Homo sapiens: one gene and its partners. The protein of the gene in region 1 interacts with the protein of each later gene in a pairwise test. Each region holds a gene or a part of one and is shown on either strand. Other genes may lie near its edges.

Evidence for each region. Proteins that work in one complex are often made in the same cells at the same time.
Region 2: the proteins of F2RL1 (region 1) and ATP2B1 interact in a two-hybrid assay, tested with the Homo sapiens proteins (one large-scale study listed by BioGRID and IntAct).
Region 3: the proteins of F2RL1 (region 1) and CLPTM1 interact in a two-hybrid assay, tested with the Homo sapiens proteins (one large-scale study listed by BioGRID and IntAct).
Region 4: the proteins of F2RL1 (region 1) and SDHD interact in a two-hybrid assay, tested with the Homo sapiens proteins (one large-scale study listed by BioGRID and IntAct).

The regions. Positions count from the first base shown.
Region 1 is NC_000005.10:76,829,030-76,832,422, forward strand, and holds part of F2RL1 (proteinase-activated receptor 2 preproprotein), read left to right. Parts: intron 1-3,393. UniProt on the Homo sapiens protein: Receptor for trypsin and trypsin-like enzymes coupled to G proteins.
Region 2 is NC_000012.12:89,698,839-89,702,338, forward strand, and holds part of ATP2B1 (plasma membrane calcium-transporting ATPase 1), read right to left. Parts: intron 1-3,500. UniProt on the Homo sapiens protein: Catalyzes the hydrolysis of ATP coupled with the transport of calcium from the cytoplasm to the extracellular space thereby maintaining intracellular calcium homeostasis.
Region 3 is NC_000019.10:44,958,380-44,961,879, forward strand, and holds part of CLPTM1 (putative lipid scramblase CLPTM1), read left to right. Parts: intron 1-3,500. UniProt on the Homo sapiens protein: Involved in GABAergic but not glutamatergic transmission. Binds and traps GABAA receptors in the endoplasmic reticulum (ER).
Region 4 is NC_000011.10:112,093,084-112,096,294, forward strand, and holds the end of SDHD (succinate dehydrogenase [ubiquinone] cytochrome b small subunit, mitochondrial isoform a precursor), read left to right. Parts: coding exon of another isoform or gene 1-114; exon of another isoform or gene 115-126; intron 127-1,721; coding exon 1,722-1,887; 3' UTR 1,888-2,711; downstream 2,712-3,211. UniProt on the Homo sapiens protein: Membrane-anchoring subunit of succinate dehydrogenase (SDH) that is involved in complex II of the mitochondrial electron transport chain and is responsible for transferring electrons from succinate to ubiquinone (coenzyme Q).

The DNA.
Region 1 (3,393 bases):
TGCTTGAACCTGGGAGACGGAGGTTGCAGTGAACCAAGATCGCACCACTGCACTCCAGCCTGGGCGACAGAGTAAGACTCCATCTCAAAAAAAAAAACAAGTTATTTTTATGGTTTGTTTGAATCAGGATTGAAACAAGGTACACACATTATATGACTGATATGTCTTTTAAATCTTCTACTCTATAAATTTCACCTCCACACCTTTTTTTTACCTTTGTTCTTCTTCTTCTTCTTTTTTTTTTTTTTGAAGAGATGGCATTGTGCTATGTTGCCCTGGCTGGTCTTGAACTCCTGGTCTCAATCAATCCTCCTGCTTTGGCCTCTCAAAGTGCTGGGTATTGAAGGCATGAGGCACTGTGCCTGGCCCTCTTTCTTATTTTTTGCCTTATAATTTATATTTTGTAAAAAACAGGTCCTTTATCCTGTAGCAGTTCCCAGAGTCTCAATTTTACTGACTACATTTGTGGTGTTGTTTAACACTTTGCCCCCTTCATTTCCATTAATTTGGTGTTGGATAATTTCCACAATAACTGCACCAGTTGCTCAGTCTATAACACTAATCAAGCACTGAATCCAACACCAAATTAATTTCCAGTATGTTACTTTCTAATTGTTACATACATTGTCATTCTAAGTTAAGTGGCCTGTGAAATCAGTGTTAAAGAATAATAACTGGCTTTTTATAATAATGGAATAGAATACAATAGAAAGTATCAGTGCACCCTATGTAATAAGAATAATTATTATTTTGTGAAACGTTTTTCCACCATGGATATGTGTATTGGGAACTGGGTTAGTATGTGGAATATGGTTCTTAGGGGTTATGGTCAAATATTTGAAGAACACTGTAATATGTAGGAATTTTTTTTAAATTTAAAAACAACATATGTTCTTTTTGAAGAATTATATAAAAAAAATAGAACCACTAGAAATAGGACTATCCTAAGCATATTAGTTTCTTGTGGCTACCATAGCAAATTGCCATAAACTGATGATGTAAAACAACACATTTATTCTGTCAGTTCTGGAGACCAGAAGTCTGAAATCAAGGAATTGGGGCCACAAGCCCTCCAAAAGCTCTAAGGGAGAGTCCATTCCTTGCCTTTTCCAGCTTGCAGTGGCTGCTGGCATTTCTTGGCATTCTTGGCCTGTTCCTTGATGTGACTCCAATCTCTGCCTCCATTCTCATGTCACTCACTCCTCTGGCTTCTCCTTTTCTGCGTGTTGCAGATCTCTTTCTGCTTTTCTCTCTGTTTTGTTGTTTGATACAGACTTTAACTCTGTCGCCCAGGCTGGAGTGCAGTGGCGCAATCTTGGCTCACTGCAACCTCCGCCTCCCAGGTTCAAGCAATTCTCCTGCCTCAGCCTCCCAAGTAGCTAGAACTACAGGCGCCTGCCACCACGCCCGGCTAATTTTTGTATTTTTAGTAGAGACAGGGTTTCACTATGTTGGCCAGGCTTGTCTTGAACTTCTGACCTCGTGATCCACCCACCTCAGCCTCCCAAAGTGCTGGGATTACAGGCGTGAGACACCACGCCAGGCCTCTGCCTTTATCTTAGAAACGACACTTGTCATTGGATTTAGGGCCCGCCTAGATAACCCAGGGAGATCTTCTTATCTTAGGATCCTTAATTCTATCTGCAAAGACATTTTTGCTAAATAATGTTCACAGAGTCTGGCGATTAGGACATAGACTTCTCTTTTGGGGGCACCACCTTTCAACCCACTACACTAAGTGAAAAGTGAAATATTGATCTCTACATCCCCCAACACTCCACCCAGGCTAGCATCCCAAATAGGGAAGCATTAAGATGTGAAAAATTCTGCGGAACATTAGTGTAAAGCTTCTAGTGGAAAAATGATGACCAAGCATAACATTATGAGATAAGAGCATGAGTAGGTTTAATATCCCCCTGGTATACGGCAGTGCAAGTATTGCCCTGTCTTCTCTGCTTGGTGAGGCCTACTTTTCCCCAGAATTAGAGTAAAATTATTCAGTATCCTTATATTGTCCTTACTTACTCCTGCAGGTTCATGAATACTTAGGGGCAGAATGTAGGGAGGACATGCCATTCATTTCTTTGTGGTTTTTAGGTCAACTTCATAATATAAGAGAGGGATAATAAGTTAGCTTGTCATGCTACATGCTTGAAAGTCTGTCATCAGTACAGCCACCTATCCAGGCCAGACGGTTTCCCTGCCAGTTGGCCTCCATGGGACATTCTCCAGGAAACCAGCACATGAGCAGGGAAAATCCCTGCCATTGTTGAGGCTATCGTTGTGGGTGAAAAGGGAATGTCCCTTGTGGTCCTGGAATCTCCCTGTGGCAAGCTCTGAATAGGGTATGATGAATTGAATAGGCCAGGAAGGATCCTGGCTCAGGGCTAGAGTGGGATAGAAGGCCATTATGAAGTGAGAAATTAGAAAACTGGTGTCAGGATGGGGATCGCTATTTTACACACTTGAGAATTTAGAAAGGAATTACTGCACATTCCTAAACTGATTTTTTTTTTTTTTTTTTGACTGAGGCTCGCTCTGTCACCCAGGCTGAAGTGCAGTGGCATGATCTTGGATCACTGCAACCTCCACTTCCGGGGTTCAAGCGATTCTTCTGCCTCAGCCTCCCAAGTAGCTGGGATTACAGGCGCCTGCGCCTGGCTAATTTTTGTATTTTTAACAGAGTCAGGGTTTCGCCATGTTAGCCAGGCTGGTCTGAAACTCCTGACCTCAGGTGATCCACCTGCCTTAGCCTCCCAAAGTGCTGAGATTACACGCATGAGCCACCATGCCCAGCCAAACCAAATTTTACTAATTGATAAATCAAAGGACTGTTGTTGGTCATGTGATAAGAATAGCTAGAGCTGGGCGTGATGTCTCACACCTGTAATTCCAGCACTTTGGGAGGCCAAGATGGGAGGATCACTTGAAGCCAGGAGTTCGAGACCAGCTTAGTCAACATAGCAAGACCCCATCTCTAAAAAAAAAAAAAATAATAAGTAAAATAAAAAGAATAGCTGGGGACTAATGAGTGTGGACAGTTTGTAAAAATAAATTGAAATATTGTTAGTCTTCTTTATATTCCTAGAAATCGATGCTCCACATGCATCCCACAACTCCTTACAACTCCCCGATACAAAAATACTCACTGTAAGAAAAAAACCCATAAAACCAAACTAAACCAGACAATAGAAATCCCAATAATCTCATTACACAAAGAAAAGCCCCTATAAGCATTTTGTGTAATCCTCTAATAGTACATTTCTGTTTTCATCTAAAGTACTTTCATTTGAGGCTGGGCTCAGTGGCTCACACTTGTATCTCACCACTTTGGGAGGCTGAGGCAGGAGAATCTTAAGGCCAGGAGTTTGAGAACAGCCTGGGCAACATAGT
Region 2 (3,500 bases), on another chromosome or scaffold:
GAAAGCTGGGTGAGGGAAGAAGACTGGTGATCTTAACATAAATAGGTAAACACTCGGTTTTGAGTGTGGTACCCTGGTTTTCAACTGTATTCCCAGTGTGCATAGCCTTCTCCAGAAAGCAAGCTTCCAGCCTTCTGCAAGGATGAAGGAAAAGAGATCACAGAGTACAGACAGAGGGAAAGATATCTGGGTATCAAATTCCTAAAATTTCAACCAGTTCTCCCGTTTTGCCCCCCTGTCCCCTCTTCACCATGGGTCCCATGTTTTCCCAGCTTTGAGCTCTCAGGGAATTCTATAAACTGACTTGTTTCTGGGCTTTTCTATTACTTAGAGATCAGCTTTTTAAGTCTACTAAGTCAACGCCTTCTAAAATTTTGGTGTGGGTTTCTCTTCTCCCTTGTGGATTTATGGCTTTTTTAAAAAAGAATTCCCTTATTCTCATTTTAGTATATGTTTGGCAAGAGGCAGAGTTAAATGCTAGTAATATGCCACTTGTTTAACTGAAATCTTAGATAATTTAGCTTTTCAATAAATGTATTTATCTTCATAAATCAAACACGGTGTATCACAGACGAAACGTCAAAATGATGACAAAGTAGTTAAAAGACAAAATTGGAAGGCAAACCTAACAGAATAAAGAAATAAATGGTTGAAAGTTTGGGGGGAGCGGGTAACCTGTTTTTGCTATACAAATTTTGTTAAAAGCCAAATTTTCAAGAGAGAAAAATCAAAACCCCCTGACTTTGTACTTTTTGAGGAGTTAAAGAAACCAAGTGATTTATCCAAGACAAGTGGGCTTTTTAGTGGTGAAGATAAATTTCACATTTAAATCTGGTGAGTCCTTAACATATCATGGAGTAAAAACCAAAACCAAAGGAGACACAGGCTCTGAGAAAGGTGGGTATTTCTAGCAAAAGAAATGCTGTCAGCAGGAGGGCCGGAGGTGATCAAGTTCCAGCATTAAATTATGTACATAAAAACAGTAGTGCTTAAGCTCAAAGGCAGGGTCATCTATTTTTTGAGACAGAGACGGTCTCCCTCTGTCGCCCAGGCTGTAGTGCTGTGGCACAATCTCAGTTCACTGCAACCTCTACCTCCTAGAATCAAGCGATCCTCCTACCTCAGCCTCCCAAGTAGCTAGGACTACAGGTACACGACACCATGCCTGGCTAAATTTTTTTTTTTTTTTTTTTTTAGTAGAGATGAGGTTTTGTCATGTTGCCCAGGCTGGTCTCAGACTCCTGTGGTCAAGCAATCCTCCTGCTTCAGTCTCCCAAAGGGCTGGGATTACAGGCAGGAGCCACTGCGCTCGGCCAAAGACAGGGTAACATAAACTTTACCCTAAATCCACTGTGCATGCAGAAAGGGGTTGACTGACGAATCCTTGTTTTTCTGAGACTCGACATGCAGACAGTTTGATGCTAGAGGAGCTCCCTTTCCTAGGCTTTGTCATATTTCTTTCCCATTCACTGACTGACCTTCCTTGTTTTCAGCCCTCTATTTGCACTGGTACCCTTTAACTCAGTAGTTCTCCGCTATGGTATTAGTTGTCAGGAGTGTCCACACTTAAGTACCTTAAGTTCATGAGTCATTTTTTAAGCAAACAAAAAAGAGTAGTTATAGCACTTACTTTCTTTTGAGCATGAATAGAGAAGAAAAGGACAGAAGTATAGCAAAGAAATTAAAAATCTCTTAGTATTAGAGGTACTAAAAAAATCTAGATATTAGCAAGGGAGAATGGAGTATATGTCAGTATCATCCATGAGTGTCCCAGTAGAAAAACAACTTACTAATCTAACCAATTTCACTTTTGCTGATTCCATTCATCTCTACCTTCAGATTTCTTTTTATTTTCTTCACTACCAAAACCACTCCTGTGCTACTCTTTGACCAACAATTTTATTATGATTATTATTGCAACGTCAATTAAAGCAGGAGCAAGTCTTAGAACTCCTTCCACAATACCTTACCAACAATTAGACCTATAAAATTTAAAAGGTTGGGAGAATACTCAATAGCAGTGCACCTGTAAGGTCTCAGCTGTGCTAATCATAGGAAAATGAATAATTTCTGGAGAACAACTCTTATTTTTTCAAGCATTTTTAAATATAACAGCTTACATACTAAAGCTATATAAATCTTTAGTTACTTAAATGTCTAAAATTACTACTCTATGTATCACTCAGACATTCAATAGAAATGATAAAGTCAAATACAGGCTTTCCTTCTTGACTTCTTGGCAGCTGGAAGAATAATCCATTGCTATACTCTAATACAGACCATATACCTACTCTTCTTCCTGATGCCTAGTGATTCTGTAGCAGGTCATGATCTAACAGTTTGCTCTCAGTTCATGGAACGGCAGCAATGATATGATGCTCAGTCTTTGGTCTGTCTAAATGTGCCCATTCTTCAAAACTCAGCATTACTCCACCCTTTCCCATCATCTCTCTTTGATTTTCTGGTCTGAAGTCCTCCGGGTTGTACACTTCCCATTTATTATCCCTTTGTCTTAGTAATTCATTTGGAGATAACATAAAAGAACTGAGATAAGATATAGGGTTCTATATCACGATATATAGAACTTTATCCAGCAAATGTTCAGGTACTATTTTTTTTGGCATATTGGTTTAGGATTTAGACATTGTGTAGCTTCTGTTAAAGTAAAGCAGAGAAGGTTAAGGAAATTTTTCTGGGAGATTTTTAAAACCTTTTTACCTTTGGAATTTTAACCTTACTCAGATGGGTTCATAAGGCAATGTTTTATTTCTGGAAGATAGCTACATACATTTCACAGAATGTTACTAGGACAGTAGAATTTAGCTTCTCTACAGGCAGGACTTTTCCACTTCTGAATTTCAATGTGGCAGTTAATTTGGTTTTTTTGTTTGGTAAACAGGTTCTTTGCTGTGTCACCCAGGCAGCCTCGAACTCCTGGCCTCAAGCGAACCTCCTGCCTCAGCCTCCCAAAGTGCTAGGACTTATAGGCATCAAGCACAGCATCTGGCCCCTAAGGGTCCTATCAGGTGAGAGGAAAAACACATACACATTCACAACAAAAGGATGAGGGACCACCAGACTCTAAGACCGTCACACAGTGGACAGTCAGCAATACTACAGTATGCAACACAGCTCTCAACTCCAGGAAACACAATTCATTTTGTGTTGTATGTGAACAGCATCCCCTGGAGTTGTGCAAAGCAGTGATCCTGGTACACAAAGTTAACAAGGTGAGATGTTCCACTAAAGGGAGTTTTGTGAAATGAGAGGACAAAACACTAGCCACATTTAGATTCAGCCCTTATTAGCACCTTGAAGTACCAGAGAAGTTCCAAACTGCATAAACCAGCATATCCTGGAGTTTGGTTGTGCCTCTTTCCCCCAGGAAATCCCTATTAATATTTTTTGGAACCAGCATTCTAAAACACAATTTAGAAAACACTGAGCTACTTTATAAAAGGCCTTCAGAGTCAAGTTGTATTTTGATAAAGAGAAAAATA
Region 3 (3,500 bases), on another chromosome or scaffold:
GTGACTCTTTTTTTTTTTTTCTTTTTTCTGAGACGGAGTCTCGCTTTCTCACCACAATCTCGGCTCACTGCAACCTCCGTCTCCTGGGTTCAGGCAATTCTTCTACCTCAGCCTCTCAAGTAGCTGGGATTACAAGCACCTGCCACCACACCCAGCTAATTTTTGTATTTTTAGTAGAGACAGGGTTTCACCAGGTTGGCCAGGCTGGTCTTGAACTCCTGACCTCAGGTGATCTGCCCACCTCGGCCTCCCAAAGTGCTGGGATTTCAGGCGTGAGCCACCACGTCCAGCCTTGTGGTATAATTTAGATGGTATAACGTTCACCTGTTCTTAGGATAGAGTCCATTGGCTCCTGGTCCATTTATGCAGTTGTGTGGTGCAGCCATCACCACAGTCTGGTCTGAGAAAGCTTCTGTCCCCTCAAAAAGTTCCCTTTTACAGTCTCTGCTGCTCCCAATCCTAGGCAGCCACAGAGGTGCTATCTCTGTAATTTTCTAAAAATGTCTTAAACAAGGATCTAAACAACATCCAGTCTTTTGTGTCCAGCTTCTTTCATTGGGCATAATGGGTTTGAGGTTCATGTTGTTACATAGATCTGCAGTTGTTCATTTTTATTTTATTTTTTACAACCTAGGATCAGGGAAATTTGGCCTTTGGGGAAATCCTAAAGTACGTGCTCACAGTTGTTCCTTTTCACTGCTCAGTGGTAGTCTGCAGACATGACACAGTTTATTCTTTCAGTCCTTGAAGGATATTTGGATTGTTTTTAGTTTTTGTCTGTTGCCAATAATGCTGCTATGAACATTCATGTACAGGCTTTTCTGTGGCTGTATTTTGTTTCTTTTTTTTTTTTTCTAAGTAAGAGAGACAGGGTCTCCCTGTGTTGCTCAGGCTGGTCTCGAACTCCTGGGCTCAATGGATCCTCCTGCCTTGGCCTCCCAAAGTGCTAGGATTATAGGCATGAGCCACCACACCTGGCCACTGTTTGTTTTTGAGACAGAGTCATGCTCTGTCGCCTAGGCTGGAGTGCAGTGGTGTGATCCTGGTTCACTGTAGCCTCATTCTCCAAGGCTCAATTGATCCTCCCGTCTCAGCCTCCTGAGTAGCTGGGACCACAGGCATGCACTACCACACCTGGCTAATTTTTGTATTTTTATAGAGATGAGGTCTTGCTGTGTTGCCCAGGCTGGTCTTGAACTCCTGGGCTCAAGCAGTCTTCCTGCCTTGGCCTCCTGAAGTTCTGGGATTATAGGCGTGAGCCACTGCGCCTGGTCTGGCTTCATGTTTTCTGCCTCCTGGGTAGCCATTCAGGATGGGTTTGCTGGATTGTGTAGTAGGTGCACATATGACTTGTTCAATAACTGCCATATTTTCCGAAGTAGCTGTACTTTTACTTTCCCCCCTAGCAGCATACGAGGGTTCCTGTTTTTCCACATCCCTGCCAGCACTTGTGATTGTCTTTCTGCTGATAGCCATCCTAATAGGTGTGAAGTGACACCTCATTGTGGTTTTAACTTGCCTTTCCGTGGGAAGGTTCCCAGCCAGATTGCCCATCACTAACGGGTAAGCGAAGAGACCTGGGAGTCAGTCAGATGCAGCTTCAAATCCTGACCTGGCATCAAGTGTCCTTTCCTGACCCCAAATCAGCTCAGACCCATTGAAACCCATACTTGGACCCCTAAATTTCCCAATAGCTAGGCTGGCCTTGAGGAGGGGGCCTTGTGCCTGTCTGATTTCCCTTCCCCAGCCGACCCCCGCCCCATAGATCTCCTCATCAGAATGTGGCTTTCTCTGTCTCAGCCTAAGGGTCTCACCCAGACGACCCAGACGTCAAAGGGAGCTCCTCAGGGAGGCCTCTCTGACCACCCACTCCAAAGTGGATCCCTGTTCCCAACTCAGTTGCTGTCACTTCCCCCTGCTTGTTTTCCATGTACCATTTTTAATTATCCTGTTTACCGTTCTAGTGTGTTTCCTTCTAGATCCCCAGCTCTGGGTAAGCAGGGCCCAGATTTCTGTCTAAAATGTTCCAGTATTTTCACAACCTGGTCCACAGGTCAGAGAGGTGAAGTGATGTGCCCAAGGTGTCACAGCCAAGAACGGTGGGACCAGGACTATAGCTGAGGTCTGTTTGACCCTGGAGCCCCTCCAATGGTGTCCTGTGCTTTGGGAGATTACAGGAAAGAGCTCTTGCTGGTGAAGGGGACAGGAGGTGACAAGTGACACATTTAACACATGTAGCCCCTCTAACCATGCTCCTGGGACATTTGCTATCTGGTGGGTAAGGTGAATGGAGAAAACATTGCAGAGGAGTGGACTAGGGGCTGTGGAGGAGAGGGCCAGACACTGGAGCCTCAGAGGGAAGTGGGTTTGGGTGACCTGAGCGTCCGGGGTGAGTCCTTCAGGCAGCGGTGGCCACACAGGTGTTTATCACAGCCTTGCTCTGTGCCACTGGTGCTCTTGAGCTAACTGTGACTGTGATAGCCCTGGTCCTGCCTCTTGAAGGCTGATGGCTGAGGGGACAGCTGGGAGGAGGGGTGAATGAGAACAGGACTGGGGAGCTAGCAGGGTGCGTGAAGGGTGAGCAGAACATCCCCTTCCAAACCTGGCATTCAGAGAGTCTCTGATTGTGACCTTCTGTGTCTGAGTGAAGAGTCCTCCTCTGGGAAGCCGTGCCTGGCTCCCTTGCCTGCCCCCCTTCCCTTCTGTCATTCTGCTTCTGCGGTCCTTCCTGAGTGACCAGACAAGTGGCTTCACCTCTCTGAGCCTCCCTTTGCTCAGCAGCCGGATGGAGCTGGTCATAGTTTTGGCCTCAGGATTAGTGTGCTGTGTGCTGTCACAGACATGTCTTGTGGCCGTGGCTTATGGTAGCAGCTGATAGTCTGGTTGTGTTTTTCTGTGTCTGTCCCACCTGCTGGACCAGGGGCCCTTGGAGGGCAGGGTTGGCCACAGAGGGGGCCTCAGGAATGGTTTGCCCAGGGAAGGCTCTTTCAGCTAAGCCCCAGCCTTGAAGAATCTGGCACCTGCCATAAGACTCCTTCTGTTGTTGTCCCCAATAGCCACCTCCTTGCATCCTGGCTCCAGCCCCAGGGAACAGTGGACAGTCATCAGAATCAGACTGTGCCTCTAATCTTCTGTTTCTGCACCTGCTGCTTCTCTCACTTCCTCCTTTGTGCCACCAACTTGCTATGTTTTAGGTCTCAGCTTCAATGCCCCCTTCTCCAGGAAGTTGCCCCGAACCCTAGACTGGACCAGGTGCCTCTCAGGGCTCCTGCATTCCTGCCCCGTTCTGGACAGTCACTGTCTAGAGATGAATCTTTCTCCCCCACCGGGCTGTTAAACCCCAGGAGGACAGCAAAAGACTCTCTAGGTCACCACTGTCCCTAGGTCACAGAGGTGCTCTGCGAGTGTTTTCCTCCTAAAAGAAGAGGACCGCACCTTCCCAGGTGTTTTCACTGATTCATTCTCCAGTTATTGATAAGCACCCACTCTTTGCCCAGCCT
Region 4 (3,211 bases), on another chromosome or scaffold:
GAGTGCAATGGTGCGATCTTGGCTCGGCACGATCTCGGCTCAGCACGATCTCAGCTTACTGCAACCTCCGCCTTTCGGGTTCAAGCGATTCTCCTGCCTCAGCCTCCCAAGTAGCTGGCATTACAGGCATGTGCCACCACGCCTGGCTAATTTTGTATTTTTTGTAGAGATGGGGTTTCTCCTTGTTGGTCAGGCTGGTCTTGAACTCCCAACATCAGGTGATCCGCCCACTTCACCCACCCAAAGTGCTGGGATTACAGGTGTGAGCCACCACGCCCAGTGGTGTATGGGTTCTTTTATATGAAATGTCTAGAACAGGCAAAGCCATAGAGACAGAAAGTAAATTTGTAGTTGGGTAGTGGGCTAAGAGGTAGAGGGTTTCTTTTTGGGGTAATGAGAATGTTCTGGAATTAAATGATGATTGCACAACTCAATATACTAAAAACCAGTGGATTATATACTAAAAAGCGTGAATTTTTTCTGGCGTTTGACTTACATTGCAATAAAACTGTTATAAAAATAGTAAAATTAGGTCACTCCTAATCTCAGGCACTCCCTGCTTAAAATGTATCAGTGGTTTCCTATTATATTTCATATAAAATTCAGATTCCTTATCATGACCTTCAAGACCCTATGCAACCGACCCCTGCCTTCCTCTGATCTCTGCTTCACCCATGTGCTCCAGCCACACAAATCTTACTATTCATTAGAGATGCCACTTTGGTTTGGATGTTCTCATTCATGTCTTCCTTTCTAAAGTGTTTCTTCTCAGTACATATATATTTACTTTTTCCTTCTCATTCACTAGTATATTCCATAAGGGTAGGGATGCTGTCTCACTTACTATACTCCCAACATTTATGACAGATTCTGGCACATGATATCTACTTAATAAATTCTTTTTGAATTAATTAAAAATACTGTAGAGTTTTAGTTATTTTTAGTTATTGGGGTGAAAGGATCACTTGCAGCCAAGAGTTCAAGACCAGCCTGGGCATCATGGTGAGACCGCATCTTTAAAGAAATAAAAAACAGGCCAGGCGCAGTAGCTCACGCCTGTAGTCCCAACACTTTGGGAGGCTGAGGTGGGCGGATCACAAGGTCAGGAGTTCGAGACCAGCCTGGCCAATATGGTGAAACCCTGTCTCTACTAAAAATACAAAAATTAGCTGGGTGTGGTGGTGGGCGCCTGTAGTCCCAGCTACTTGGGAGGCTGGGGCAGGAGAATCACTTGAACCCGGGAGGCGGAGGTTGTAGTGAGCCGAGATCGTGCCACTGCACTCCAGCCTGGGCAAAAGAGCGAGACTCTGTCTCAATAAATAAATAAATAAATAAATAAATAGAAGGAAATAAAAAACAATTAGCCGGGCATGGAGGCATGCTCCTATAGTCCCAGCTACTTGGGAGGCTGAGGCAGGAGGATCACTTGAGCTCAGGAGTTCGAGGCTGTAGTGAGCTATGATCAGGCCACTGCACTCCAGCGTGGGCAACAGAGTAAGACTTTGTCTCTAAAGAAAAGTCACTAGAAATAGACTTACTGACATACACACGCAAAAGGCTATACAGAATCCCCTAAAGAAGCAAACAGTGACAGTGGAGTGGCAAATGGAGACATTGCATTTGAACTTGACAGATTGTTTTTTTGCAGCCAAGTTATCTGTATAGTCTTCTAATTTCACTGTGGTTTTTTATTGATGTTATGATTTTTTCTTTTTCTTTAGGGGCCTTGGACAAGTTGTTACTGACTATGTTCATGGGGATGCCTTGCAGAAAGCTGCCAAGGCAGGGCTTTTGGCACTTTCAGCTTTAACCTTTGCTGGGCTTTGCTATTTCAACTATCACGATGTGGGCATCTGCAAAGCTGTTGCCATGCTGTGGAAGCTCTGACCTTTTTGACTTCATACTTTGAAGAATTGATGTATGCCTCTTTGCCTCTGCTTTGTCATGCCATTAAGCTCACAATAAGGAAGAAATAACAGATAAGTCCATTGGTGGACAGCCTTCTTCTCTTAATCACAAGATTATTTTCAGAATTTAATCTTTGAGGAAAAGGTTTGAGAGGAATTATATCTAAGTTGTGAGACTGAGTTCTATATTCTGGTGAGTTAATGGGGTTGCCTCCCAGCTTCTTATAAGACTCACAGTATAACTAAACATGATATATCAGCTTTTGCCTTTCAATTTATCAATCTCTTAAAGAGAATCCAACTTTATTACGATTAGTATATGATCAAACTTCCATATTTGCCTTGGGAATAATGGACAAAGGGAAATACTCTTAATTCATGAATAAAAACTTTGCAGAAAATTAGACAGTGTTTAATTTTCGAAAACTTCCCTCTCTAGACAGTAGATACCACCTACTGATGGTTACATATACTAGGGAAATTTTAAAATTAGGAAATGCTGATAGCTCATATTATAAATTTCTAAATCCTAGGAAGAAACGCTTGGAGTGCTTCTGAATATACAGAAGTTCCATTTAAGGGCAAGTTTCCCTGTAGATGTATCAAAATACTACCAACTGTAAATTGAGATTTAATTCCCAAATGTATTCTACTTGTTCTAAAACAATCTGTCCACAAATATAAAACTATAAGTAATAAATTGTTATTTTCGCACAATGGGAATCTCTAATGTGAAAATGTATTCTATGAAAATAATTTTTTTAAATAAAATGTTATATAATAAAAGTGTCTTCTATGCTTTTATATATTAGCTATCAGTAGTTTTATTCATTAGAATTAGGTGTCCATTGCATCCACAGCATGAAAACAAAATTGGGTTTTTTTTTTTTTTTGAGACGGAGTCGCACTCTGTCACCCAGGTTGGAGTGCAGTGGCGTGATCTCGGAGCACTGCAAGCTCCGCCTCCCAGGTTCATGTCATTCTCCTGCCTCAGCCCCCCGAGTAACTGGGATTACAGGCACCCACCACCACGCCCAGCTAATATTTTGTATTTTCAGTGGACATGGGGTTTCACCGTGTTAGCAAGGATGGTCTCGAACTGCTGACCTCGTGATCCACCCATCTTGGCCTCCCAGAGTGCTGGGATTACAGGCATGAGCCACCCCGCCCAGCCAAAATTGAGTGTTTAAATTTTCTTCTGGGGCTTAGCAGTTAGGTAAATCAGACACAAAGTACTGGAAAACAAAAAGGACTTGTAATAGGCAGAAAAATACCAAGTGTATAAGTAATTTGGTATAAACAGA